Linked DNA regions of Homo sapiens. The protein of the gene in region 2 purifies or fractionates together with the protein of the main gene of each other region. This does not show direct contact. Each region holds a gene or a part of one and is shown on either strand. Other genes may lie near its edges.

Region 1 (6,222 bases), on a different chromosome or scaffold from region 2:
TTTTCAAGGATCATGTTTTGGTATTGTACCTAAGAAGTCACTGCCAAACCAAAAATTTTTCTCATGTTATCCTAGATTTTCTCCTATGTTATCCTCTAGAAGTTTCAGTTCGCATGTTACATTTAGGTCTATGATCCATTTATTTTTGTGAAAGTTGTCAGGTCTGTGTCTAGATTAACTTTTTTGCATGTGGATGTCCAGTTGTCCTATACCATTTGTTGAAAAGGCTATCTTTTCTCCACTGAATTGTCTTTGTCCCTTTGCCAAAGATCAGTTGACTTTATCTGTGTGGGTTGATTTCTAGGCTCTCTGTCCAATTCTACTGATTTATTTGTCTATTCTTTTGCCAATGACATGCTGTCTTGATTAATGTAGCTTTACAGTAAGTCTTGAAATTGGGTAGTTTCAGTCCTCTGACTTTTTTCTTCTTCAATACTGTGTTGGCTGTTCTAGGTCTTTTGCCTTTTCATATAAACTTTAGTTTGCCAGTATCCACAAAATAACTGGCTGGGGTTTGACTGGGACTGCACTGAATCGATATATGAACTTGGGAAGAACTGACATCTCAATAATATTTAGTCTCCCTGTCCATTTACATGGAATATCTCTCAGTTTACTTAGATCTTTGATTTCTTTCATGAGTGCTATAATTCTTCTCATATAGATCTTCTACAACAAACTTTGTTAGAACTACACATATTTCATTTTATTAGTGTTAATATGAAAGGTATTGTGTTTTTTTTTTTGAGACGGAGTCTTGCTCTGTCCCCCAGGCTGGAGTGCAATGGCGCGATCTTGGCTCACTGCAACCTCTGCCTCCTGGGTTCAAGCGATTCTCCTGCCTCAGCCTCCTGAGTAGCTGAGATTACAGGCACCCGCCACCATGCCCAGCTAATTTTTGTATTTTTAGTAGAGATGGGGTTTCACCATATTGGTCAGGCTGGTCTTGAACCCCTGACATCAGGTGATCTGCCCACCTCGGCCTCCCAAAGTGCTGGGATTACAGGTGTGAGCCACTGCACCCAGCAGTATTGTGTTTTAATTTCAAATTCCAGTTGTTCACTGCTGGTAGATAAAAAAGCAATTGACTTTGTATATTAACTTTGTATTCTACACCTTGTCATAATCACTTATTAGTTCTAGGAGCTCTTTTTGTTGGTTCTTTGGGATTTTCTACATATGCAATCATGTTATCTGCAAACAAAGATATTCATCTATTTTTTTTTTTTAAATATAGATGGGGTTTCACTACATTGCCCAGGCTGGTGTCGAACTCCTGGACTCAAGCAATCTTCCTGCCTTGGCCTCTGAAAGTGCTGGGATTATAGGTGGGAGCCACCATGCCTATCCCTCAACTGTTTTTGACCTATAAAAACAGTAATTTCAGCCCAGGTGTGGTGGCTCATACCTGTAATCCCAGCACTTTGGGAGGCCAAGGCAGGTGGATCACCTGAGGTCAGGAGTTCGAGACTAGACTGGTCAACATGGCAAAACCCCGTCTCTACTAAAAATACAAAAATTAGCCAGGCGTGGTGGTGCATGCCTATAATCCCAGCTACTTGGGAGGCTGAGGCATGAGAATTGCTTGAACCTGGGAGGCAGAGGTTGCAGTGAGCCAAGATCATGCTAAGGCACTCCAGCCTGGGCAACAGAGTGAGACTCTGTCTCAAAACAAAACAGAAAACAAAACAAAACCTAGTAATTTCACATGGCTCAACCTAACAGAAAACAAAGTCGTCTCCTCCCACCCATTTTCTGGAACACCAATAGTCAAGCTTGTATTCTCCAAACAAGAGACTAGAAAATTCTTTTCTAGAGAAGCCAAATAACCCCAGAAAAAAAAGACTGACAGCTATAGCCATTTGGAGAAACCCAAATAAACAGTAGGCTTGCTGCTTGATCATCCTGTGATTAATGGGCTCTCACTATCAACAATTTACTTACTTACAGCACAGAGTCCTAATCAACTTTTTTATTGTTCCACGTAATATAAGTGGACAACCAGAATAACCAGACATTTGAGAGAAGCTTCCAATATGAAAAAGCTTAAGGCAAAAAGAAAAGAGGAGGAATCTTGAAGAAACAGATAATAAAGTAAACAAAAGAAAACTTGACAAAACCTCTCAGAGACATAAAAGACACTGCATCTATGAAATCAGAATAGGGCTGGGCACGGTGGCTCATGCCTGTAATCCCAGCACTCTGGGAGGCCAAAGCAGGTGGATCACCTGAGGTCAGGAGTTTGAAACCAGCCTGGCCAACATGGTGAAACTCCGTCTCTACTAAAAATACAACAATTAGCCGGGCATGGTGGTGGTGGGCACCTGTAATCCCAGCTGCTTGGGAGGCTGAGGCAGGAGAATCACTCGAACCCAGGAGGCGAAGGGCGCAGTGAGCTGAGATCGCACCACTGCACTCCAGCCTGGGTGACAGAGCAAGACTGTGTCTTAAAAAAAAAAAAAAAAAAAAAAAGTGAGAAAGATGAAACAAAAAAACTTTTTTTAAATTAAAGAATTATAGAACCTTTCTCAGAATTGAAGGATGAATATCTAGAAAGGTCCAAGAGGGGCTGGGCGCAGTGGCTCATGCCTCTAATCCCAGCACTTTGGGAGGCTGAGGAGGGCGGATCACCTGAGGTCAGGAGTTCAAGACCAGCCTGAAACCCCGTCTCTACTAAAAATACAAAAATTAGCTGGGCGTGGTGGCAGATGCCTGTAATCCCAGCTACTCGGGAGGCTGAGGCAGGAGAATCGCTTGAACCCCAGAGGTGGAGGTTGCAGTGAGCTGAGGTTGCACCACTGCACTCTAGCCTGGGTGAGAAGAGTGAGACTCCTTCCCCCCTGCCCCCACCTAAAAAAAGAAAGAAATGTACAAGAGGGAAGAAGAAAAGAAAAAGTAAATGCATCAAGCATATCATTATAAAATATCAGAAGATAAGAATAAAGAGAAGATCCAAAAAGCTTTGGGAAATAGAAATAAGAAGTCCAATGCTATCCTGATTCCTGATCTTCTGTCTCTAATACAAAGCAGCACTGGAAGCTAGAAGACAATAGATAATGCCTTCAAAATACTCATGGAAAATAGTTTCCAACTTAAATCTTGACATCCAGTCAAATTATTAATGAGAAGACAGCAGAATAAAGATATTTTCAAAACTACAGCATCTCAAAATATTCCCTCACACAACCTTTTCTCAGTTACTGAAAGATGTAGCCATCAAAATGAGAAAATAAATCATGAAAGTGGAAAATATGGAATTTAAAAGACAGGAGATACATAATAAAGAAAGGAAAAAAGGAAAAGGAAATTATGATGGTAGTGAAGACAGATTAGAGAACAACCACTTTGACACAGGCATGGAAAGCATTTGGTCTCGAATGAAAAGAAGAAGGTGGTTCCAGGAAAAGGTATTCTGGGAAAAAAAAAAAAAAAAAAGACCTGAGTTAACAGGTTTTTAGATTGGTTTGGCCATGTGGAAATTAGACTGAAATGGAACAGAAGAATTATCAATCGATAAGATGAAAATGAAGCAAATGAAAAAATAACACAATTATTTAGGGGAAAAAAAGGCTGTACAAGGAAAAAATAGTACGCTACTTGGCTTGGTAATGAATAATATTTAAAAGCACTAAATATTCACTGTACTCCAGCCTGGGTGAGAAAAAGTGGGAGGACAGGAGTAGAAGGTGTGTGGTATGATGGAGCTAAGGGTTCATTTACTATGATATGCAAGTTAATAGATTCGAAAAGGTAACAAAAATTAAGAAATGGCTTTATAAGATTATTTAAAGAGGTAAGTTCTAACATTTTTGAAAGAAGAAAGGCTTATGTTTAAGCTTATATGAAAGATAACATCATATTTGGAAATTCATGGAAATTTCTGTAATCTCAGCTACTTGGGAGGCTGAGACAGGAGGATCACTTAAGCCTAAGGCCACGCTGGAGAACACAGCGAGACTGTCTCAATCAAAAAAAAAAAAAGAAAGAAAGAAATTCATGGAAATTTTAGTAGATAGAGAAGAGCTTTTTAAAACTGGAGAACAATCACATTCTTCTATAAATCTCAAAGAATCACATTTAAGCAGCAAGAGAACAAAATAAGAAATATAAAAGCTCGAAATGATAGACAAGCTGCACAGGATACAGAAGAGATCTATGAAATAAGGACAGAAGAATATACGCTTTCTTAGTAAAATATTTGAGAAAAATATTTAGACAGATCACTGTGATATACTTTAAAATGTAGTCTTACTTTTGGGCGAGAGGAGAGGGCATGTTCTATTTTCTGCTATTTAGTTTGAGTTTTTTGTCAAAGATTAATATTGGCTACTTTCAAAAATTATGTTTAATGTTAAACTACAATTAAAAACATGGTCCTATGGGATTGAAGGAAGATGGAGAAGTTTTTCAATATCTCCTTCCAGGGCTATGGCTTCATGAATGAGCAAGATTTAAAGCACTTATTTTAAGTAATTCTGAGAACAATCTACCTCAAGTGAGTATCTTTAGTATTATCTCCTTAAAACCAGTTTTAGATGACTAATTATGATTCTGTGTTTCTACAATGAAATAAAAATTCCAGTATACTCAAGAATGCCTGCCACTCACCTTCTTGATATAATCTAACAATGTCTCTATTGTGGTCTATGCAAGCTTCCTACTACAGGGAATTAGGAATAAAGCTGATTTTTTTACACAATAGAGGCGTGTTATGGGATAAGTCTTACCCATTCATAGGCTTAACAAGATTCATTTTGTGAGTCTATTGTGAAACGCTGAGCTAGGACAATAATATTCCCTTTCTTGGAAATCTGAACTACAAGGAAAAAAAGTTCCATTTGGCAGGTGTGGTGATGTATAGACAAGTTTGTACCAGGATATAAACCTTTAGACCTGGCTCTACCACAGATCTTGCTCTTCCTTAGGTCTCAGTTTGCTAAGTTTACTAAGGTTTCTGCCCCTCCTGAGGTCAGGTTATTCAACTTTATTTGAAATAACTTGCAACTGGCATTTTTACATTATTATAGCTTCTTAATTGCACATTATGTCACTACCATGAAAATATGCCTAAATTCAAATTCACATGTTACTTATTATTTTAGATATGTTCTCTATAGGCCTGGGTAAAGCAAAAGCTGAATGACTTTTCTTGCATAGCCTAAATATTTCCTTGGTATTACCTTCACAATTTTAGATATATTTTTCTACCGTAAAAAGCATGTCCCTTAATAAATAAATGTAAGAATTAGGTGGCAGCTATAGCACTAACCAGGCAGCTCTAATCTTAGAAAGGTATTTCCTAGGTCTACCACTTAACTAAAATCTTGAGCAAGTCATTTTAGCTCTTAGGACTAGTTTCTTTATCAATGAATCGATCAGAAGACTGCTAAGATCCTTTTCAGGTCTACAATTATGTAAATCCTCTTTAAGCAAGCTTTTTTTTCAATATTTAGTCTATAGCATTTACTAATCTTATATAACTCCAGCAAAATGTTAGCTCAATACGTAAGCTACGTTTCCCAAAGTGTGACCTGAGGTGGTACATGACATAAATCCAGTTCACATAATGACAAATGCTTTCTATTTTAATAATTATCTAATTATTTTACTGGGTATTAGCGAAAACCTAACTTGCATATCAGACCAGTGATTTTATGTACTTAGAATGAGTAATAAGTAAAATAGACTTGAAAAATATTCAGTAAGTTCTAGTACAGTTGGTACTCACTTACAAGTGATAAACACCATAAAGGCAGTATGTGAATGACTCAAGACTATGGAAAAATTGAGACAGCCATAAAACCTTTGCACATTTATTTAATAATGCACCCACCACAACGTGCCACACAACTTATTTCCACTACATGTTGCAGGTAGGTCCGTAAGATTTTAATGTTAATAGTGAAATAACTGTGACCCAGAAGTGAGTCTTCAGATTTATTTTTTGCAATATTATTGGAACAGCACTAAATATACCATCTGTGAACTGGAAAAATTCAAAACGGTGCTAAGTATGGAAAGCCAAATATTTATTATCAACTGCAAGATTGCCTATCTTCCTTAATAAGTCATAAAATATGGGATGGAAGATTAGGTTTCTACCCATCATTTAATGGCTCTATCTACTTTGATGACTTAATATCCTTAAAAGTCATTCTTTTAAAAATTGTTCTTCATGCCAGGCACAGTGGCCTCTGCCTGTAATCCCAGCACTTTGGGAAG
Region 2 (6,222 bases):
AGGACCAGCACCCCCATCTGTCTGGCTCACTACTCCGCCCCTTGCACCGAGCACTGTGCCTGGTACAGAGCAAGAGCTCAATAATGTTGGATAGATGAATGGATGGTTGGATGACTGTGCATCAGGCCAATCTATCTCATTTCTTTTTTTTTGAGACGGAGTCTCGCTCTGTCGCCCAGGCTGGAGTGCAGTGGTGTGATCTCGGCTCACTGCAAGCTCTGCCTCCTGGGTTCACACCATTCTCCTGCCTCAGCCTCCCGGTAGCTGGGACTACAGGCGCCTGCCACCGCGCCCAGCTAATTTTTTTTGTATTTTTAGTAGAGACGGGGTTTCACCGTGGTCTCGATCTCCTGACCTCGTGATCCGCCTGCCTTGGCCTCCCAAAGTGCTGGGATTACAGGCGTGAGCCACCGCACCCGGCTGATCTATCTCATTTCTAAAGGGCAAGTTCATGGTTCCTCTAATGCGAAAAGGATAAAATCAAAATTGCTCTTTTTTGTTTTTTTTGAGACAGTCTTGCTCTGTCACCCAGGCTGGAGTACAGTGGCACAATCTCAGTTCACTGCAACCTCCTTCTCCTGGGTTCAAGTGATTCTCCTGCCACAGAGTCCCAAGTAGCTGGGACTACAGGCATGTGCCACCACACCCAGCTAATTTTTAAAAAATTTTTAGTAGAGATGGGGTTTCACCATGTTGGCCAGGCTTGCCTCAAACTCCTGGCCTCAAGTGATCCGCCCGCCTCAGCCTCCCAAAGTGCTGGGATTACAAGTGCGAGCCACCACGCCTGGCCCAAAATTGCTTTTGACCATGCCTCCCCATCCTCACCAAAGCAACCAAAGCTGCTCTTCTCTATCTGCCTTATGTCAGGGCTTTTACGTTTAATTTCACTTTAAGTAGGGGTTCTTGGGCTTACAAGTTTCAGAAAAGCAGCTGCCCCAGTGGGCAACAGGGAGACAGACATAGTTAAATGAGTAAGTAGCAGGCTGATTCAGTAGAAGAGGCACTGCAGGACCTCTGAAGCTGTGTGACCTTGGGTAAGTTATGTCCCTACTCTGAACCTCTACTTTAAAATTTACAGACTGGGCCAGAAGGTCTACTTTTCCTTCTAAAGTTCGAATACTGATTCCTAACTTCTAGCTAAAATTCTGACCATCACCTGACAAAGGTGAGGAAAGCAATATTTAAAAAAAAATGTTCAGGGCTAAGTGCGGTGGCTCATGCCTGTAATCTCACTGCTTTGGGAAGCCAAGGCAGGAGGATCACTTGAGCCCAGGAGTTTGAAACCAGCCTGGGGAACACAGCCACACCCCCATATCTACAAAAAATTAAAAACAACCAGGTGCGGTGGTTCAAGCCTGTAATCCTAGTTACCTGGGAGAATGAGTCAAGAGAATCACTTGAGCCCAGGAATTGGAGGCTGCAGTGAGCTGATTGCACCACTGTACTCTAGCCTGGATGACAGAGCAAGACTCCCATTTCTTAAAAAAACAAACAAACAAACAAACAAAACTCAAGGCTGCCTGACATTGGCACCCAGATCGTCACTAAGAAGGTGTAAGAAGGCCAGGTGCAGTGGCTCACGCCAGCAATCCCAATACTTTGGGGAGGCAACCCATCAGATTCTAGTGTCTGAATCAAGCAATCTGAATCATTTTTTAGTGAGTGACTTCAACTGTTTGGCATTCAGGGTATACTTGTAGGACAAATTAACCTCCACTCTTCTGCCACAGATTAAAAACCCACACTAGGCAGAGTCTCTCTGCTTTTTCCCTCTGGGAACCTCAGGGCAGGAAGAGATATGAGAGTGTCACCTACCTATACAGCTTGTATTTGGAAGCAAAAGCCTTGCCACAGTGCAGCTGAGGGCAGCTATATGGTCTCTGCTCTGGTTGCGGGAGGCTGTGAGGCCTCAGCTTCTCCCCATTTGAGAAAGGTGTTCCCGAAATTTCACATTGGCACTTCACTTGACTCTCCGCCTCCCGGCCCCGAGGCCTGGGAACTAGTTTCCAGCCCACTTCCTCCTCCTGCTTTGCATCTTGAATCCAGGGGGGGACGCTGGTGAAAAATGTGGTCATGGCAAGGCTAATGGCAAAGGGCCATGTTATTGAGAAAGCCTCCCCATCCGCTCCACACAGGCTCTCAGCTCTGTCACAGCCTCCAACGCAGCTTTCAGAAAACAATCTCTTCACCTGAAACATCAGAACACCTGGTGTTAGGGAGCCCAATACCATGAGAACATGGGCTCTGGAAGCAGACAGATCCCGTTCCAATCCCAGCCCTTCCACTTAGAAGCTGTGTGACTTTCAGCCAATTACTTACTTCCCTGAGCTGTTTCCTCATTTATAAAATGGGCATAATAATCTCCTAAATTATAAAAATGTTTTGAGGATTAAATGAGATCATGAATATAAAGCATTCAGCAGAAGGCTGGGCATCCATTAAGTGCTTAGTGGTAGCTACTATTACTAGTACCATCTAGGCTAATAAGAAACAAGATAAACTGAGGAACCAAAAGCCCCAAAACTTCAAACTTTTTCTTCTGGACCTCACTTTTATATCCTTTCCATTGAACCTAGAGATAGCGGTTCCTCCTTCTTATTACCCTGGCACCTCCTCGTCCACTACTTTCCACAATTGTCCTCCTCATGGAGGTGCTAAGGAGCAATAAAATGCCCAAAAGGCAAGAGAGGAGGAAGGGGAAGCCTCTACTTAGGAAATTTACATCCTAGTCAGTCCTGGTACCAGATGTGTTTCTTAGCAGTGCATCAACATCAGGAGGGTCTATATGGGAAGGCAACAGCAGATTCTTAGCATTTTCCCTAAACCAGGACTAGAACTGGTCCCATCCTGACCACCACCACTTCTCTGGGTCACTGTGTCTCAGGGCCCAGACCATCCCTCTTTAGCAAAGCCTGTCCAACACCCCTAGGTGCTGAGAGGCCCCTCCTACAGGGCCTCAGAGTACATATGCACATCTCCTTTAGAAGACGGTAGCGAGCTCGCATTGGAATTTACTCCTCTCCACCAGCCTGATTGTCTGAGGGCTTGCATCATCTCTCTTTCATCTCTATATACCTAATATCTAGAAAAGGAACCCTAACTTTATTTCAGATAGGTAAACTAGTCACTGAATGCAGGTTGATTCTCAGGGACCAACCTAGGCCCAGGTAGTTCTGGTTTAAACTGGGTTCGCAGCCATTCCCAAGTGGGGAGCCGAAATCTTAAAGTCTGATTCTTTCTCTTGTTGAATAGAAGGGGAGATGTGCAAGAACGACACAACTCCATTCCAGATACTAATCCAGAGGAAGAGGATGGGAGTTACCACACTGACTCTCAAAAGGGGACAAGAGACCCACATTCATACTCCCAAGCTTACCACAGATTACCAACCACGATGCAACCTGCTACAACAGGGGGATTCCCTTTGAAGAGATGGTGCCAAAATTTGATCATGAGGCTTTTCCATGTGAAGAGAGAAAAGGGGGTGTCTGGGGATTATCCACGAGAATCTGGGGAGGGCTCCAACTGCACAAACTAGCTGTGGGCCACAGAATGCTTGCTCAGCTCATTAGCACCTGCTGCTTACAGTGACCATTCATCCAACAGACTGGCCGTGAACAAGATGATGGGATCAGCGGGTTCATGCCCCAGAGAGCTTTGCTCATCATTAACATGAGCTACGTCCTGTTCAGGAACCATTCCTCTTGTTGAAGAAACACTGCGATGTAATATGATAAACACGTCCCCATCACGAGTGTAGATTTGTCTAGAAAGATCTGCATTAAGGTGGCTGCATTTTGCATGAATCACATGCTGGGGAGGGGTAGGTAGCACTAAAAACTAGTCCCACTTGAGCCTTCAAGTCATTATGGCATATGTGCCTGCTTCACTATAAACCTCAAAGGCCTGTGACGTCTGGCTTTCATTGTTTAAGTCCCCTCCTCCTTTGCAAGGGTGGAATTACCTGTTTGTAATACCAGCAATTACTATGCACCTTGGAATTGAGCAGAGAGTGTGCTCGAGTGTGCATGTTTAGATTGGAGGGAATTACCCCTACCTTCAAAGTCAAATTCTACTCCCCCTTCAATTTGAAATCATGCACCTCAGCCTCTGGAAAGTTGGGAATGGCAGCCAGAAGGAAACAAGTCACATCAATTTGGCTGATGTGAGAGAGGAGCCTAGCCCTGGAAACTCCACACAAACTCAGAAAGAGAACATTACGTCCCCACCTCCCACACGTCCACCTCATCTGTTCTCCTGAACAAGCACAAACAAGACACAATAGTTTAGTAGGCTGCTACTGAAAGAGTGAGTAATGGGCTTCTAGGAAAGAGGCTGGTGGTGGCTAAGGAGCTTGTACTGATAGAACCAAAGGAGGAAAGCAGCAGCCATGTGCTCACCTTGATCTGCTTTTAATGGGGCTATGTCTTCACAAAGAAAAGAGCCAACACCCTGATCCTACTCTCCTACACTTTTCAAAAGGCACAGGAAGTCCCTACCTACAGTCACCAGCAGCCTCTTGGATAACCAAAGCTGCTAGTGTTACCTAGGAACCCTTTTGGGGATCTAGTCTCTCTCTGCCCTTTGTCTGAAAACTCCTCTGATCCAGAAAGATTCCTGGGTTTGTCTTACATAAGCAGAAGGCCTGTTCCTTCAGACTTGTCCTTCCTCAGCAAAACTGTGAAAGAATTCTACTTCTCTTTCAAAGCTGCTCTTCTGGTCTCACATTTTAATCTTAACAACTATAGACTATAGAGAAGCTGACAGAACCTGTTTCCATAAAACAAACACAATCCTTCCCAGTTACTGGCACAACTCAGTATATTTTCAGCCTAAGATTCTTTCTAGTGCCTGATCTGAAAGGGGAAAGAACCTTGGACTTGCTATCAGAAGAGCTGCCACTTACTGGCTGGGAAACCATAGGCAGGTTACTTTATTTCTCTGAACCTCAGTTTCCTCAATTTCTAAAATACGGATTTATTTTCCTTACCTGTAAGATTCGTATAGAGGATTAAATGAAATAATACTCTTGAAAGTGGCTGATACAAAATGTGTGCTCTGAATACATGCAGTGCCTTCTCTGAGGTCTCGGCTGTGTCTGCCTCTTTTTCCGCATGAGGCCTGAATAGTACTTCTTTTTTTCCTCTTTAATGTTACTTCTCAGGCCTCAGAGTGAGTTTCCTTCCTTTCCCAACATCTCCCCCAGAATGCAGTCTTCCCCTTTTCCCTCACAACTAACCCTCGGCACATCCCCTTTAAAGAGCCCCTTACTTTACCTCCCTCCAGGCACCATCTCCTGGGCCAGAGTTCTCTCTTAAGCAGAGAGCCACTTTCCTATACTCTCTTGTATTATTAGGGCTCCATATCCCAAACAGGAATGCTTGCTAAAAACTCTGTATGGTCCTCTTTGAAAGCTGAAACTGAGACATATTTCTCCCCAGTCTGTCCGTCCCCTGTTATGGGCCATGATGCCTGCTGCTCTCTGATGAAACTATAGTTTTTATGGTGTTACATCATCTCTATAGAAACTGCGTTCTTTCTCCATTATTAGCCTGTTTCCTCATCTGTAAAGCTAAAAATACTTACCTCACAGGCTTGCTGTAAGGATTATTTTAGTGAGGTATGCAAAGGGCTCAGCACAGAGCTTGGCCTGCTAGAAGTACCCAACAAAAGAGAGCTATTATCTTTGTCTTTGTATTGAGTTGCATGTTTCCACCTTCTGCTGCCACACTCAAATTCTCCTCACTCCCCCCTAAAAAACAGTTGAGAGATAACACCCCTGCACAAGGAAAGGGTTAATCTTTGAGTGTTCTTAACTAAAGAGACCCACAGAGGATTAACAGCTCCACTTCAGTGACTACCCTAAAATAGCTTTTATCCTCCTGCCCAAGAGTTACTTGGGGATCTGAAGAACTCAATTCAACACCTGCCGGAGGAAATAGACCCAGAACGTTCCTTGGGATAGAATCTTCCCTTAAGCAGAACCCAAAATAGCAACTGGGAAATTATAAATAGACTTAGAGGAAAGAAAAAACAAAACAAAACAAAACAAAAAACAGATCCTGATCTCAGAACCAGAAACAAATCCTAAAACACACTGGTTGGCTGGAAAACAGTGAGAAGAGGGGAAATGGGAATGCTGTCGCCCCCTTCCCCCCCGCCCACTCCAGAGTGGTGGGAGAATTAAATTACAGGGAGGCTGGAGAGTCTCAATGACTTGCA
Region 3 (6,222 bases), on a different chromosome or scaffold from region 2:
CTGACTAATCACAAGCTACAATGCTAAATCAGTTGCTACTCCTTTCACCAGCAATCTGGACATTCATAGGTCTACCTATGAAAAAGTCTGAAAACCCGGTATCCTTCTCAAAGGAGGGTATGCCCTTGCTCCAGCTCTAAAGAGTTGCCAGGCTGTTAGATTTGCCTGAGGGCCCAACAATGAGCACGGAGATAGTACAAATAACATTCCTGGGCACACAGGGTTCCTGCCACCCTAAGATCTCAAAGAGAGATCTTTTGTTTCCTTCTGTCTTCAGAATATCTCTGGGCAAAAATGACAGGGAGAACCAAATTTGAGTGGAAGGCTCACTAAGCAAATCAGTGGTGACTCTGGTGTAAAATTCCAGTACCAGACTTTGGCACAAAGATTTTTCCCTCCTACTCTTCCTCCCAAGGTGTTACCTAATGTACATTATCCTTTCCAGGTTCTAAGAGTGAGGTTAATGGGAGTAAAATATCACCCTACTAGGCAATTCCTTGTAAGATCAAGAAGTGTGCTAGATAAGCAAATAAGTCTTATTTTTTTCTTTTATTCACGTGGTATAGGAGACCACTTCTTAGCTTGACATGCTTTAAGCCAAAGTTCCCTAGATTATTCCTGATGTCCACAGACTGCCACAGCCACTACTTATTCTTACTCAGGGGCCTTTGAGGCTACTCTTTTCATATGAAAGGGAGACAATTGTCACGGCTGCAGCAGGAACTAAACAGGAGGCTTAGCTTCTCAAGACCGATAAAGAATTTAGCAAACATTGAGCAGATAATTTTGTAATGAGGTTGTAAATAGGAGTAATAAGGTCAGTCTATTAAACTCATTAGTTTCAATAAGAATTTGCCAAAGCTGGATGGCATTCCCATTTACCTCCTGGGGAGCTCCCCTCCTAAAACCTACCAGAGAGCCCAAAACAGTATGTACGGTTTTAAGATTTCTTCTCCACTTGATAGAAATCACTATTAAGTCATTACAAGGAAGAAAGATTCAACTTTACAGAGGAAACAGAGGTCTCCTGGCTGTTGGCAAAATTTTTCACATGGCAATACAGCAATGGGACAAACATGCCAAGATTAAAATTGGCAGTGACAAGCTGGGCACAGTGGCATGTGCCTGTAGTCCCAGCTACTTGGGAGGCTGAGGTAGGAAGATCACCTGAGCTCAAGAGTTCATGGCCAGTGTGGGCAACATAGTGAAACCCTGTCACTAAAAAAAGAAAAAGAATACATATACTATGTTTAAAAAATGACAGTGACAACAAAGAGGGGCAGCTCCAACCGCTAATGGCCAAGGTGGGCAGCACACAGATACAGAAAAATAAATTATGAATTTTAATAAACATCACATCCTGCTTAACGACTGTGGTGAAATAAACTCATTCCTACTTAAAGACTCAATTTCTCCTTCATGCCAGACAAATGGTAACTTGTTAGAGCAATTTAAACAGATACCGATAAAGGAAGCTTTTGATTAAGGTCATGAATCTGGGCTGACAGGAAAGCGATGGTGTTTCAGGGCAAATAGCCTATTTAGGAAAGAATTAAACCTGGTGGAGAGGAAGGCGCCTTTAATGTGATACTGGTGAAGGAGCCTGGCAACTTCCAAAGCAACTGGCTGCAGCAGGGCTAGGAGCCTACACCAGATGCACAGCTAAGGAGAGAAGGAATTTTCTTAGGGTCTAGACCATAGTTTTCCCGTGAAAAACAACCAAAGAGAACAAAATGACCTCATCTGCCTCTCCTTACTTCAAAAAGTTATTTGACAGCAAATTTGTAAGAATGTATTTACACTTGAAAATACCTTCAAACTCCTTTGAAAATACTCAAAAGATCACGATGCAACAGTGGCCATGACAACAACATCCCTTTTCTTCTTTACTCTGGCCAGATGTCAGTCTTTGACCTGGCAATGCAGCTACCATGTGAATAATGTAAAATAAACACACTGATTAAACTAAATAGATCTAATAATGAGTCATTACATTGATTTAGCAGAGGAGGAAAAAATAAGGTCCACACAGACAGAAATAGTAACTACTGTTTTGTTTTTCTAATTGTCCTCCCTAAAGAGCATTTTTCAATCATCTACCTGAACATTATGTTCAGGTAGAAGTGGCTGCAGTAAATGGAAACACCTCTGCTTTAATAGAATGATTTGAATAGGAAAGCTGCATATACATTTCAGGGGATATGTAGACAGCAAACCACCAGGGTATACTGTCCGGGGGACACCTAAGAGAATTAGATACAGAACATAGGTGATATAAATGCTAAGTACTTAATGAAATGATCTTCTGCAGACTGGAGGAGACAGGCAAAATGAAAACTGTGACGCATTTTAAGCTTCTTGGAAAAGATACTATTGTTGCCTTTTATCAGTTCTATTCAGTAACTATTTACTGAGCTTTTGCTCCAGGCTAGGCATGGTGGGAAAGAAGGCACAGGGAGCAGTCTTGCTGATAAAGATACTGCCCTCAGTTTCTGTGTCAATGCAGAGCTGCCCCTTCCTAAAATAAATTAACCTAGGGAAATCTAGAAATGTTGGTTTGCCTCTGCCTCCCATCTCATTTTCTGCAAATGAAAGGACGAAGTGGCCTCTTGCCAGACACATACAAGGAACTGGACACCTCTGGATTTCCATTCTTTTTTTTTTCTTTTTGAGATAGGGTCTTGTTCTGATGCCCAGGCTGGAGTGCAGTGGCATAATCTTGGCTCAGTGCAACCTCTACCTCCTAGGCTCAAGTGATCCTCCCACCTCAGTCTCCCGAGTAGCTGGGTCTACAGGTGCATGCCACCATGCCCAGCTAATATCTGTATTTTTTGCAGAGGTGGGTTTTCACCATGTTCCCCAGGCTGGTCTCAAACTCCTGGGCTCAAGCAATCCGCCCACCTTGACCTCCGAAAGTATTAGAATTACAGGCATAAGCCGCCATGCCCAGCCTGGATTTCCATTCTACACACACAACAGCAATAGTCAATCCTGACTGAGTCATATAGTACCACTTCCAGAGAAGGGGGAAGAGTAATCTCAATTCAGTCACAAAAGCTTGAAATTTAAATCAGAACGGTTTCCTTGAAGGATCCTTACCCTTATACACTTACCTTCTTTTACCTGGGACTTGTCCTTTCCTTACTTCAAAGAGATGTTACTTGAGAGCAAATGTCCCCCAAGATCCACTTAGAACCAGATATCACTTGTTCCCCAGACATACTCTCTCTTTTTCCCTTACAAGCCATCTCTCCCAATACCCCTACCCAAGGAGATTCTATCTTCACCAAGCTGCTCAAATTCCAGGTGAGAGGTAAAATTCCCTTTCCTCAAGAATCTCCAGAACCATCGCGTGCAGTAAGTTTTTGCCTTCTTACTCAGGAACTTCAATTCCTACCTACCCTGGAATCTACTGTGACTTTGAAGCAGAGGTGTCCAATCTTTTGGCGTCCTTGGGCCACACTGGAAGAATTGTCTTGGGCCACACATAAAATACACTAACAACAGCTGATGAGCTTTTTTTTTTTTTTTTTGAGACGGACTCTTGCTCCGTGTAGTGCAGTGGCACAATCTCGGCTCACTGCAAGCTCTGCCTCCCGGGTTCACGCCATTCTCCTGCCTCAGCCTCCCGAGTAGCTGGGAGTACAGGCGCCTGCCACCACGCCCGGCTACTTTTTTCTGTTTTTTAGTAGAGATGGGGTTTCACTGTGTTAGCCAGGATGGTCTCGATCTCCTGACCTCGTGATCCGCCCACCTTAGCCTCCCAAAGTGCCGGGATTACAACTGTGAGCCACCGCGCCTGGCCAGCTGATGAGCTTTAAAAAAAAAAAAAAAATCCCCCAAAAATCTCATAATGTTTTAAGAAAGTTTACAAATTTATGTTGGGTCCCATTCAAAGCAATCCTGGGCCACAGGTTGGACAAGCTTGCTTTAAAGGCGTGAACACCTCCACATACAAAGCTGCAACTGACTCTCTTATCTAGCCTGGACTACAGCGACACCGATGCTCCATTCGCTGTACCACCTGTCAAGCTTCTCTCTGGACCAGCTTCTCAGTAGCAGCTGATGAGTAACTGCCCTTCAATAAGCTTATCACTTGTGAATAAACTGTATTTCCTACTACCTTCAAAGGGTGCTTCACACCCTTTCAGTCACCAATCTGTTATGAAATTTCATTCCAGTTTCCCAGTGATCCAACAGAGGATCCAATATGCAAGCCTGCTGGTGTGCTGGGTTGAATATGGTATCCTCCCCAAAGCCTGTAAATGTGACCTAATTTGGAAATAGGGTCTTTCCAGATTACATCAAATGTAATACTAGATTACAGTGGGCCCTATCCAATGACCGATGTCCTTATAAGAAGAGGGAAATTTGGATACAGACACACACAGAGGAAAGGTAGAGGCAGAGATTGGAGTTATGCTACCACAAGCCAAGGAACACCAAGGAATGCTAGCAGCCAGCAGAAGCTAGAAGTGGTAAGGAAGGTCTTCCCAAGAGCCTTTGAGGGAACATGGCCCCACCAACACTTTGATTTTGGACTACTAGCCTCCAGAGCTGTGAGAGAATAAATGTCTGTTGTTTTGGGTCACCCAGTTTGTAGTAATTTGTTACAGTAGCCCTAAGAAACTAATACAGCTGGCAAGTCAAGGTAAATGCAAATTTACCTTGAGGTATTTGAGGCAAGCTCCCAGACATTTTACCATTCCTCAGAAAGCATCTATGGAAACTGTGAATAACCCTAAAAGACAGGCAAAGCAAAATGCTAGTTTCAACCAGATTAGTGAAATCTTCGACGCTTAATGCAAACAGTGAACGCAGCAATGCTCCAGTAGTTGGATACTTCTGACCACAACCGCTGAAGGAATTGAGAAAACGGTATGCATGCAAAAAAAGTGAAAATTAGGCTCGACGGCCGCAGCAAAGAGGCCCTCCCTTACAAAAGAGCCCCAGGATAATTAACAGCTATTAAGGGCACACAGCACTCAATGCTCACCACTACTTCTAACTGGTTTAAGGCAGCAAGAGTGCCACCTACTGAAGGACAACCAACAGAAAGCAACTTCTGGAAAAATTACCATTTTTTATTTAAAACAAGTTTCCCCACTCTTAGTAGGAGAATGGCAGAAGGGAAAAGAGTCTATAGCCAACATCTCTCTGTAGAGTATTCCTAATTTTCCTCAAGGGACCAAGGGGCAGTGGACTATAGTCTGCTCCACCTAGATTAGACACTGTGTGTTCAAATAACCAGATGGCCAGTGGCCTCAGACCACACAAGCACACGTACCTTTTGCTCCATGACTGACAGAGGAGGGAGGTTCATCATCGGACGTGGAGCTGAGGCTCAGGGCAAGCTCTGCAACTCTTTTTTTCTGTTTCTTGATGGGGGCAGTGCATTCTGGGTCAGTTCTCCTCTTCATCGTTAACTGTAACCATAAATCCAGTCAGTCAGCTGCCCTTGGGTCACAGCCACTGGGATCACAGCAGGGATTCCAAAGTGTAAATCATCAATGGGATGAGATTTGGCAATTCTACACATCTTCCAGTGCCAGCACTTGAATAGCCTCTTCCTCAGAATGAGGTCTAGGAAGGATGCTAGACAAGTGTTGGTTTTCAATAATAGCTGTTTTACTGGAAAATGTGGTGCTCACAGACTGAGAGAGCCCTGGGCCACTGGTGTCAGATAACAGAAAGTCATGGATCAACTCCACAAGCCACTGGGGGATAAAGCCTTGGTACCTGTAGTTATTCTACACTTTTGATGCAATATTGGCCATGCATGACAATGTACACTGAAAATGAACTATAAAACCGAATAAATATTAACCAATATTCCCAAGGTGAAGGGACCATCCCAGAATGACTGTTTCATCAGCATTATTTTACCAAAACAATTAAGAAATTACATAATATCATAAAAATACTGGTTTTGGTTTACTTCATAATGTTTGAAAACATGAAAGAATTGGGAAAGTTTTTAAGCAGAGTAGGGAATGGAAGCAGTGAAATGACTTAAGACCGAGGAAACACAAGAGCGGGAAAGTTATTGGGACTGGAGGTAGCTATACCACAGAACTCAGTTACGAAAACAACAATTTTAAGGACAGAAATCCACCTCCACAAAAAAGAGTGGAAACCAGCTGGGCGCGGTGGCTCACGCCTGTAATCCCAGCACTTTGGGAGAAAGAGGTGGGCGGATCACCTGAGGTCAGGAGTTCAAGA
Region 4 (6,222 bases), about 13 Mb from region 2:
CAGGCCAGCAGCTGTATAGGAGATACCTGTTGCTGTACGTGGCAGATTCCAGGTTACTACACAAGAGGCTTTCACTGTACTTCTCAATAGCTTTCTTATGGTTTCCCTTCTTTACAAGCTCATTGCCTTCTTCCTTCAGAACTCTGGCTTTCTCCACATCCCCAGCAGAAGGCACTAGATACAAATTCAGAAGAGGAAAAAAACCATGGAGCAGCACCCAACTGAGATCAGTGAGGTCTCTTCAGCATCGTCCCTTCCAAACTGACTACAATCCTCTCTCCCAGAGATTTCCTCCCCTGCTGTAAATCATCCTTCCTGATTAATGACTTCCCCCAATTAATAGCTTCTGGGCAATTCAACAGTTTTTCATCAAGAAGTTGGGGAATCCTGATATAAAAACATTTTTGCATGCACATAAAAATATATAAATGATAAAAAGCAACCCAGGTTCTAGCCTTGGCACTGCCTCTTGGTAGCTGGAAGATCTTGTGTGACCTACCTAACTTTTGGACCTCAATTTCCTCACCAATAAAATAGGGCAATACTAATTCCACAGATGGCTATTTTCAGGGTCAAATCTGAGAGTATGTAAGAAAGTACGGAACACACTATAAACTTAAAGCAGGACAATAAGTAAATAAATACTAATAAACAAATATCTGGTAAAGAAAAGGTATAGCTTCTGGGCTATGAGAAAAGGGGAGAAGAGCCTGCTATTCCTCATTTCTGGTTTGGGCTGAGCCTGTGAGTATCCTCCCTCATCTAACACATGCAGCTCTGCTCCAGCCTTCAAGGAGAGGAAGCAGAGGGAACATGGTGAAATCCAAGCTGCTCAACTTGGTGTTCAGGCCCTTCACTGCTTGGCCCCAATTAATTATTCCAGCCTCAGCTCCATATCATCTGCTTTTCAAAAATTTTTAAAACTATCTTTATAAAATACTAAATATTTATGACCAGGGTAAGATTATAGGTTTACACCCTGAATTCATTGCCTGGTTTAAGAAAAAGAACATAACTAGGACCTTTGAAGTCCTGGGGGACCTTCCTCAATTCAATCCACTGCTGGAGGAAACTATTATCCCCAATTCTGTGCTTCTTCCCCACCTTTTTAAACAGTATAACTATATACAACAGTACCCACAGATCATTTGCTGTTTACTTTGTTTTTGAACTTCATACAGAAGAATAAGTCTGTGTATTCTTTTATGACTTGGTTTTTCTTTTTCCCCTTAATGTTATATTTCTGAGATTCATCTGTGTTGATGCACAGACCTGCAGCTCCTTCATTTTCATTGCTGCAATACCAAAGCTGAATTGTCCATTCTCCCATTTATGGAGATCTGGGTTATCTCCAGTTGTTTTTTGCTATTACAGTCTTCTACGAACATTTGTGGGTACATCTCCCTGTGCACATGCACACAGGTTTCTCTTGAAGTAGGGCTTCAGCTTCACTGGCACCCTGCAACACACCACTCTGCAGTCATCCTTATTCCTACTGTTCCCCCCATGCACTTTCATTCTCCAACTCTCTCCACTGTCTCTGCCAAGGATTCTCCTTCCTTCCCACCTGATGACCTTCTTCAAGGTCCAGCTCAAGGCTCCACCTCCATTGCCACCCCTTCTGAGTCTTTCCCCGACTCCCTCATGCACTTAAGTCAGTTTCTATCCTGAAGTCCTCAAACACTAAGACTCTAAAGCACATGTTCCTCCTCCTTGTGTTTTAAGACACTGTTTACATGTCTCAGTCCCTCAACTGAGGGAGAGTTCCCTGAGGGCCAAGACTGTCCTCTGTGTCACACTGCTTAGCATACACATGGCTTGGAACACATGGCTCAGTGACCCTGAAAGAATGAAATCAATGGTAGGTGCACTGATTTAAAGAATGAAATCAATGGTAGGTGCACTGATTGAAAGAATGAAATCAATGGCACTGATGCCATCAGGTTCATTAGCACCGCACATTTTCATCCTAGAGAAGAGTGGGGAACACTTACCAGGCTCCCACAAACCAGAGTGAATGCTACCCATGACCAGAGAGGCATTCTCCTGTAGAAGGTGAGTAACTCTTGTCCTCCCCTAACACCTATAGGTCACTTACACATGGCAGGGCTCCATCTCTGATCCCTTCTGCACCTCTAGCCTGAATCCCTAGCTTGCTGGGCTGGGACCATTCCCCTGGAGCATTAAAAGAGCTTCCTAGTGCCTGACAAATGGCCTCTTCATTTCATACAGTTGAGGTGAGGAATCTCCTGTTTTTGGCTGCTTGGATCTCCTTTCTCTTCTTCATGCTTCTCCAGGGATTCACACAGTGTACATGCTCCTGGGAAGCATCACCCTCTAGTTCTGGAGGTGGGGCAGGTGCCTCAGGGTGACCTAATCACAAAATCTCATCCGCCGGTTATGGTGTGTACTTCAGGGAATGGCCTGTGACCATGAAGACCAGAATAGATTGAGAAAATGATTGAGAAAATATGTGAGCTAGAGTTTTTTGGGGGAAAAAAATCCTATCTTTTCCTAGTGAGCTATCAGAGAAAGACTTTCTTTCTCTGGGTCATGAGGCATGGGGTATGGATGTGAGGCCGGGAACTGCTATAGCTATTTTGCTACTAGGAGGGAAGCTTGCCAAAGACAAAGCTGACGCACAACAGAAAATAAAGCTGTGATAAGTACAGAAAAATGGAGTTAGTCTGTTAATATACTGAGCTGCTGGAGCAAACCTTGCCTGAATTCTCTCGGATTTTTCAGTTTTATGAGCCAATAAATTCCCTATACTATGTTTACCATGTTGAGCTTTCTGTTTTTGCAACCAAAAACATCCTAAGTACTACATCCCAAGTGCTACCAGAGGAAAGAGAAGGGAACTCACACTGCATGCCTATGTGCCAGGCTGGGAGTTTTACATGTCTTATGTCATTCAGTCCTCATGGTTGTGAGGAAGACTTTATCATCACCCTCACTATACAGCTGAGAAAACAGTCTCTAAGAGGTGAAGACTTGTATTTTGTTTTATACTTTGTTCCTAAGATTATTTTTATAACTCAGCTAAACAATGCCAATTTTTGCAGGACTACTCTAAAGAAAATGGATAGTGGGAGATTGCAAGACTCTGGGCAGGGAGTCACAGCTCACCTCTGTTCTTTGTAGCTGTGGTTTCTTTGGATTTGCTTTTAGCCATCTCTTTGTGGTTCTCCGAAGGCAAGGAATTCCACCTCTTCTGAGCTGAAACAGGCACCAAGGGGATTGAGGGCAGCTTCAGGCGCCACTCAGGCCCAAGCGAGTCCATGAGAGCTCTGGTCATTCTGGAAAAGAAGGCAGGATTGCAGGGAGGTTTCCAGCTGGGTCAAGAAGATATTTCTCCTTTCACACACCCATGGGAGGTAGGCCTTTTCAGAAGAGCCAGAGCTGCCACCCTCCCCCTGGTCGGAACCACCTCTTTAGCTCCTCCAACACGTGCAATACAGGAACCCATAAACACCATCTCAGATCAGTCCCCATGACATTCCTTGAGCTTGGTCAAACTATGTTACCTTTAAAGTGGTGATCTGTTGCTTGTTAAGGATACTTAAACCATGATCCAAAAAGACTATAGTTTCTCCAAGAAAGAATCATACATTTTGTTTCATATTTTATCAATGAATCAAGTACACAACCATGCAAGCACCTGACATTTGTTTAATGCTCAGGCTTTTTAAAAAATGCAAAGCTTATGTCATTCTCAAATCTTACAACTCCTCAGGGGTTCCCAATTCCCTAGGCTAATGTGGCATGTGAGATCTGGTCCCCACCCCTTCCTGTCCCCCTTCACTGTGAGCCACATTCTCTTCTGATCCTTCTGTTCAAGACTTTGCACATGCTTTTTCCTCTACCCAGAACAACCATTTTCATTTTGGAAAAAGATTGCCACCTTCCAGGCCCGGCTAACTCCAACTTATTCTTTAGATTTCAGCTTAAAATGCCACCCAGAGACCAAGTTCATTCTGTCAACTGATCTCCAGCACCTGGTATGTCACCTAGCAACCACCAAGGCCCAATCAGTTATGTGTTGAATGAGTGAATAATGCTAACTGTATACTTTTTCTGCTCCTACAACCATGTTTCCTATATTACAAGAATAAAAACCACAGACTGTATCACTACAAATTCCAAGATGTCTCTGGCTAGGCTGTTTTCCTGGCGGCCAAGCTATTTCAAACCTCTGCTCTCCTCAAACCTGTTCCCTGGCCCTTCCCCTTTTTTAGAGCAAACTTCCTCATACCCCAAATACAAACCTACCTGCCTGGGTGCCCAATCCTTCCTATTTCTCTCCTGTCACAACAGAAGAGACAATGGGACCAATCCACCCACCTAAGCTCTGGATCCCATCTCCTCTTGCCTCTTTCAGGGACCACACCCAGGCAGCACCTCCCTCTCCCACATCTTCATCCTTCCTCTCTACTAACTCCAACCGTCAGCATTTAAGTCCCTTTAACTCTTTCCTCACCTAATAAAACCATACTGGACACCCCTTGCCATCACAGGTATACTCCCCAGCTTCTCTTCAAGCCTGACTTTCTGAAAGCATTGCCCTCTGGCTCCTGATCCCACTGACCAGCTTCCATCAGAGCCACCGGTGACTTCATTGCCAAACCTTTAATGTAAGCTCCTTGGAACACCTGACACTAATGATGTCTCCATCTTTCTTGAAATACTCCTTCCCTTGGGACATCAATGCCCTGTTTCCTCCCACCTCTCTAGCTGCTGTTCCTCTGTAAGTCCCTCAAATGCTGGAGTTTCTCAAAGCTCCATCCTCTTCACACTAGCTGTGATGTTCTTTTTCTTTCTCACAGCCCTAATCCACCTCTGCGCTGATGACCCTCAAATCCTTATGTCTGGCCTGTATTTTCTTCCTTTGTTCCATGTAAATACCCAACCGTCCTACTTAGATCTCTAGTCTTATGTCCCACAGTCACCTCCGACTGAATGTCAATAATCTGAGTGTCTTCTTCTATTCCTCCCTTCTCGATACCCCGCAACCACTAAAGCTTGTTGATATACTTCCTACATGTCCCCTGACTGGTCCCATTGTTTTCTCTCCACCCTCTCCCCTGGATTGCTGCATGACTCCTTTCTATTCTGTTGCCCTTCATATCATCCCTCAACATGGCAGCAAAGAGCTTTTCTCTAAAATACAAATCTGCTCATGTTGCTCCACTGCTAAAGACCTTTTCATAAAGGCTGACTTGCTCAGGATTAAGTCCAAGCCCTGAACCCTGGGTCTTGTGTGACTTGGCCTCACCAACCTGTCCCAAGCTGAGCTCCTGCCTGCAGCACCATGTGAAACCGACTTCTTACAATTCCTGTGATCTGTCACACTTGCTCACCTTTGCACACGCTGCTCTGTCTTCTGGCTAACCCCCTACCCCATATCTCTCATTCTTAGCTCACCTCCTCTGAAAAGCTCTCTCTGGCCTCCCCCTCTCCCTCTCAGCTAGCTAGGTGGCTCCTTTCTGGCCTCAGAGCCCCCTGTGCTGCCTCCTACCATGGCGCTTATCATGTTGTATTGTGCTTGCCTATTACTGACTGGTGTCTTCCTTGAGACCGGGACCTCTATGACGGCAGGAAGAGGTATGTCTCAGTCATCAGCCCAGGTCCTAGAGCAAAGTCTGTCACATAATTGGTAGATTTTGTGGAATCAGATAAGTTAAAAAGGAGGCAAAGAGAAAACAAAGAATGCTGGCAGACAAGTCAAGCCAGAAATAAAGCACTAAATACATACCATGAAGTCCCTGTTAAGGGTTTGCTATTAGTGCAGTGTTTGGCTTTCTAGCCGCACACGCAGAGGGGAAACATGATCAGTTATACAAATGACAATATCCATGAGATAAAAGCCAATAACTGCTCAGAGACCAGAAAGGAATTGCACCTGGGGAACCTCTTGGATTGGTCACAGTGCAATATACTGAACCATGTCCACAAACCATATCCTTTTAGGCTTGTCATAGCTGCTTGGGCTTGTGTCTTATTCTTCTAATTAGCGTTAGCGCTTTGAAGGTAAGTGGGGTCTGTATCTCTTTCTCATTTTGGTATCCCCCACTGAACCGGGCACAACACCTTAAACAGTGTACAATAAATATTACTGTGTACATAGATACTGTGAGGCACATGTAGGCAAATATCAATCAATCAATCTTAGTAATTGACTCCCTGAAAACCTGCTAAATAAAAAAGCAGATTTTCCTTTCT
Region 5 (3,478 bases), on a different chromosome or scaffold from region 2:
GGCAGGATGAGACCTCTCACCCAGAGGCCCAGGCAGCTGCAAGGCCAGCTTGTGGGTGCCGTTGAGCTCATCTGGAACCATGTGGGAGGCCAAGGCCAGGCCTGGGGTCACCCATGGGCTGAAGCTGGAGGAGAGGGAAGCAACAGCTGGAGGAGGAGGAGGAAACTGTCACCATGATGGAAAACATGGGAGAAGGTGGGAGTCAGCTCCTCAGAGCCCAGTGCCCCAGCTGAGAGGTCAGGAGGAGGAGGCCCTTGTGACCTTGGAAGCCAGAGCAGGACACCAAGGAAGGACCTTGGAGAAGGGAATGTGGAGGTGAGGCTTGTGGATTCAGCAGCAAACGAAGGGGTGGTGGTTAGAACGGTGACTGGAAGGACTGTCCTCTCCTGTTGTATAACTCAGTTCCATGCTGCAGAAACACAAGTCTTTCCCATACTACATTTCAGAGGCAAGGTTGAACTCAGGTGACTTATCTACCTGCCCAATGAGCCAGAGACAGGTTTTATTTTTTTAAAGCATTTTAATAAAATTAACAAATAAATATTCTAAACTGTATAGGCTACAGGGACAAAGGGTAGAAGCTAGAGGGCCAGTCTTTCCTGCTCAGGCCCTCAAGTCCCCTTTAGAGAGACCCTGCTCTGGGCTGGTTTGGGGCTAGGACTGCTGACTTGGGGAGGCGGGGAGTGAACCCGGAATGGGTGATCTGGGCTCTTGCAGCCATTCCTCTTTGTTGGTGTAGGGGAGGAGAGAAGAGGTCAAAGAAAGCAAGACCCTGCAAGAGGCATCCCAGTGACCCCCAGAAGTGACTGGGGTAAGGGGAGCGCTATCCTAGAAGGAGGGGGTGGGACGGAGGGGGCAGTGAAGCAGGGCGGTGAGCATGGCCAGTGGTGGGCTTCGGCCGCGGTTCTACCTGTGGCCACTCACTCTCGGACGTAGACCCTGGTGCACACAACGTCATCCGCCGTCATGGTCTGGAAGGACAGAAGTAGTTGTTAGCCTGAGAGGCCCCTGGGGTCCTGTGGCTTTGGAGAGGAGGGTTGAATGGAGGTACTCTGCTTGGCCTCCAGGTCCAAACCTGCTTCTTGGCTCAAGACCAACAGGCAGGAGCTGGTCCCAGAATGCCCAGGCATCAATGGAGGGAGGATAGCAATAGAGCCCCTGGGGCCCGTCCTCCTCCTCAAGCCAGGAAGATCTCCCTGAAGAACTGCTGGGATCCCTCAGTACATGCCCTTTGCTTGCATAAAAGGAACACCATTTCTAATTCACACAGGGCACTGTATGGGATAGGGACACCTTAGTTCTGTTCAAGCAGTCCCATCAGCAGGGTGCGGAGTCCAGCCATGGTTGTTCTTGAGTCTCCTGCACCCTGGGGTCTCCCAGAGAATCTTGGAAGGTAGCACTGGGTTTGCTATTAGTGGGGAGGAGGCAGGACTTACCAGGATCAGTTCCCCATCGTTGGTCAGTTCTCTGGTCCACGAGGTCTTGGGGCCCTCTCCCTTCAGGAGCTTCTGCTCACAGACCATTTTATTCTCACTCTCCCATTTCACCAGGCTCTGCAAGAGACAGGTGGCCAAGTGAGCTGGGCCCATAGCAGGGGCAATGCAGTGAGAGGGATAAGGGAGAGAGCCCCTTTCTAGCCCCCACCACCACCTAGGGATTTTCCCTACTGGGACAGAGAGAAGCTAGGAGTTAACTGCTAGCCTGGAAAATGGCAGGTTGAGAGGCAGGGCAATGACGCCATGACCCTGGAGCCCCTTCTGGCACTCACCTTACAGGGCCTCCCATCCACAGTCTGCTCCTCAAACTCCTCCCCAACCTTGAAGTTAATCTCTGTGGTGCGCACGGTGGTGGAGGTTTTGATGTAGAAAGTGTCTCCCTCCTGTTTGATCTCCACTGCTGGCTTGGACGCTGCAGCCACAGCAATCTTCCTCAGCATCACATTCACCCCTGTGGGGAGAGAGGAGAGGCTCACCTTTTAGGGGCCTTTGGGCACCTCTCTCACACCCTCCCCATAAGACAGTTGGAGCAGGCTGATTTGTGACTTGCTTGGGGTGGGTGTGTTGGGGGGTGCATCTGCCTGGTGCCTGGGTGTCTAAGAAAGTGCCTTGAAGGAGACGGTAGGCGGTGCAGCCCTGAAAGATGAGGGGGTTTAGGGAGGAGAGGGAGAGAGGCAGTGGCCTGCCCCTGGGAGTCCTGTTCCTAGCTGTGGCCCCACCTTGTTGAGTCAGCAGGTCTGGATCAGGCTCCCCACGTCTCAGCTCTTCAGTCCCAGAATGCCCAGGGGCAGCTTCTCCCCAGCCCCCTACCCAACAAACATCCTGCTACTGGCTCCGGTTGTCTCTGTTTACTTCACTTTTGGCCTTTTGTCTACCCTGTTGACAGCTCATCAGAGTCACTGGGACTGTACCCCTGGCCAAGCACAGGCCAGACCCCATCACTCATGTCCTGGGAAGTAGGAGCCATTTCCCTTTTTGCCCTATCTACCCACCGTATCTAGTGCTAGATAGGTCTTCATTTGCCCAATTTCTGCCCCACAGCAATGAAAGAGAGCAGGGGCAGCTGCTTCCCTCTACAGAATGGTCAGCAGCCTGGGAAGACAGAGGCTCTGGAGTAAGGTCCAGGAGGCTGTGATTTCCTCCTGGCTCAGCCCCCTTACAGGCTGGGTGACCCTGAGCAAATGGCTTAACCACCCTGAGCCTTAGATTCCTCAATTGTAAAATGGAAATAACAGCTTCTTCAAAAGCCAATCAAGGTTGGGTATAGTGGCTCACACCTATAATCCCAGCACTTTACAAGGCCAAGGCAGGTGGATTGTTTGAGCTCAGGAGTTCGATACCAGCCTGGGCAACATGCTGAAACCCCGACTCTACCAAAAAAAAAAAAAAGCCAGGGCTGGACGCAGTTGCTCACACCTGTAATCCCAGCTACTCAGGAGGCTGAGGCAGGAGAATTGCTGAATTGCTTGAACCCGGGAGGCGGAGGTTGTAATGAACCGAGATCATACCACTGCACTCCAGCCTGGGTGACAGAGAGAGACCCTGTCTCAAAAACAAAACAAAACAAAAGTCTGGGCGCAGTGGCTCACGCCTGTAATCCCAGCACTTTGGGAGGCCGAGGCGGGCGGATCACGAGGTCAAGAGTTCAAGACCAGCCTGACCAGCATAGTGAAACCCCATCTCTACTAAAAATACAAAAATTAGCTGGGCATAGTGGCGCGCACCTGTAATCCCAGCTACTTGGGACGCTGAGGCTGGGGTAGGAGAATCACTTGAATCCGGGAGGCGGAGGTTGCAGTGAGCCAAGATCACACCACTGCATTCCAGCCTGGGCGACAAGGCGAGACTCCATCTCAAAAAAAACAAAAAACAAACAAACAAACAAAAACGACCTGGCGCAGTGGCCCATGCCTGTAATCCCAGCACTTTAGGAGGCCGAGGTGGGTGGATCATCTGAGGTTGGGAGTTTGAGACCAGCCTGA

Evidence for each region.
Region 1: the proteins of PLAGL2 (region 2) and SPAST purify together in Homo sapiens (affinity purification with mass spectrometry; one large-scale study listed by BioGRID and IntAct). This does not show direct contact.
Region 3: the proteins of PLAGL2 (region 2) and CMTR1 purify together in Homo sapiens (affinity purification with mass spectrometry; one large-scale study listed by BioGRID and IntAct). This does not show direct contact.
Region 4: the proteins of PLAGL2 (region 2) and TOMM34 purify together in Homo sapiens (affinity purification with mass spectrometry; one large-scale study listed by BioGRID and IntAct). This does not show direct contact.
Region 5: the proteins of PLAGL2 (region 2) and CRABP2 purify together in Homo sapiens (affinity purification with mass spectrometry; one large-scale study listed by BioGRID and IntAct). This does not show direct contact.

The regions. Positions count from the first base shown.
Region 1 is NC_000002.12:32,117,786-32,124,007, reverse strand, and holds part of SPAST (spastin), read right to left. Parts: intron 1-6,222. UniProt on the Homo sapiens protein: ATP-dependent microtubule severing protein that specifically recognizes and cuts microtubules that are polyglutamylated.
Region 2 is NC_000020.11:32,200,104-32,206,325, forward strand, and holds part of PLAGL2 (zinc finger protein PLAGL2), read right to left. Parts: exon of another isoform or gene 6,193-6,222; intron 5,101-6,192; exon of another isoform or gene 4,991-5,100; intron 4,980-4,990; exon of another isoform or gene 3,377-4,979; intron 2,190-3,376; 5' UTR 2,076-2,189; coding exon 1,816-2,075; intron 1-1,815. UniProt on the Homo sapiens protein: Shows weak transcriptional activatory activity.
Region 3 is NC_000006.12:37,434,828-37,441,049, reverse strand, and holds part of CMTR1 (cap-specific mRNA (nucleoside-2'-O-)-methyltransferase 1), read right to left. Parts: intron 5,427-6,222; 5' UTR 5,421-5,426; coding exon 5,288-5,420; intron 1-5,287. UniProt on the Homo sapiens protein: S-adenosyl-L-methionine-dependent methyltransferase that mediates mRNA cap1 2'-O-ribose methylation to the 5'-cap structure of mRNAs.
Region 4 is NC_000020.11:44,948,704-44,954,925, forward strand, and holds part of TOMM34 (mitochondrial import receptor subunit TOM34), read right to left. Parts: intron 3,300-6,222; coding exon 3,130-3,299; intron 175-3,129; coding exon 27-174; intron 1-26. UniProt on the Homo sapiens protein: Plays a role in the import of cytosolically synthesized preproteins into mitochondria. Binds the mature portion of precursor proteins. Interacts with cellular components, and possesses weak ATPase activity.
Region 5 is NC_000001.11:156,699,106-156,702,583, forward strand, and holds the end of CRABP2 (cellular retinoic acid-binding protein 2), read right to left. Parts: intron 1,948-3,478; coding exon 1,769-1,947; intron 1,554-1,768; coding exon 1,437-1,553; intron 972-1,436; coding exon 921-971; 3' UTR 501-920; downstream 1-500. UniProt on the Homo sapiens protein: Transports retinoic acid to the nucleus. Regulates the access of retinoic acid to the nuclear retinoic acid receptors.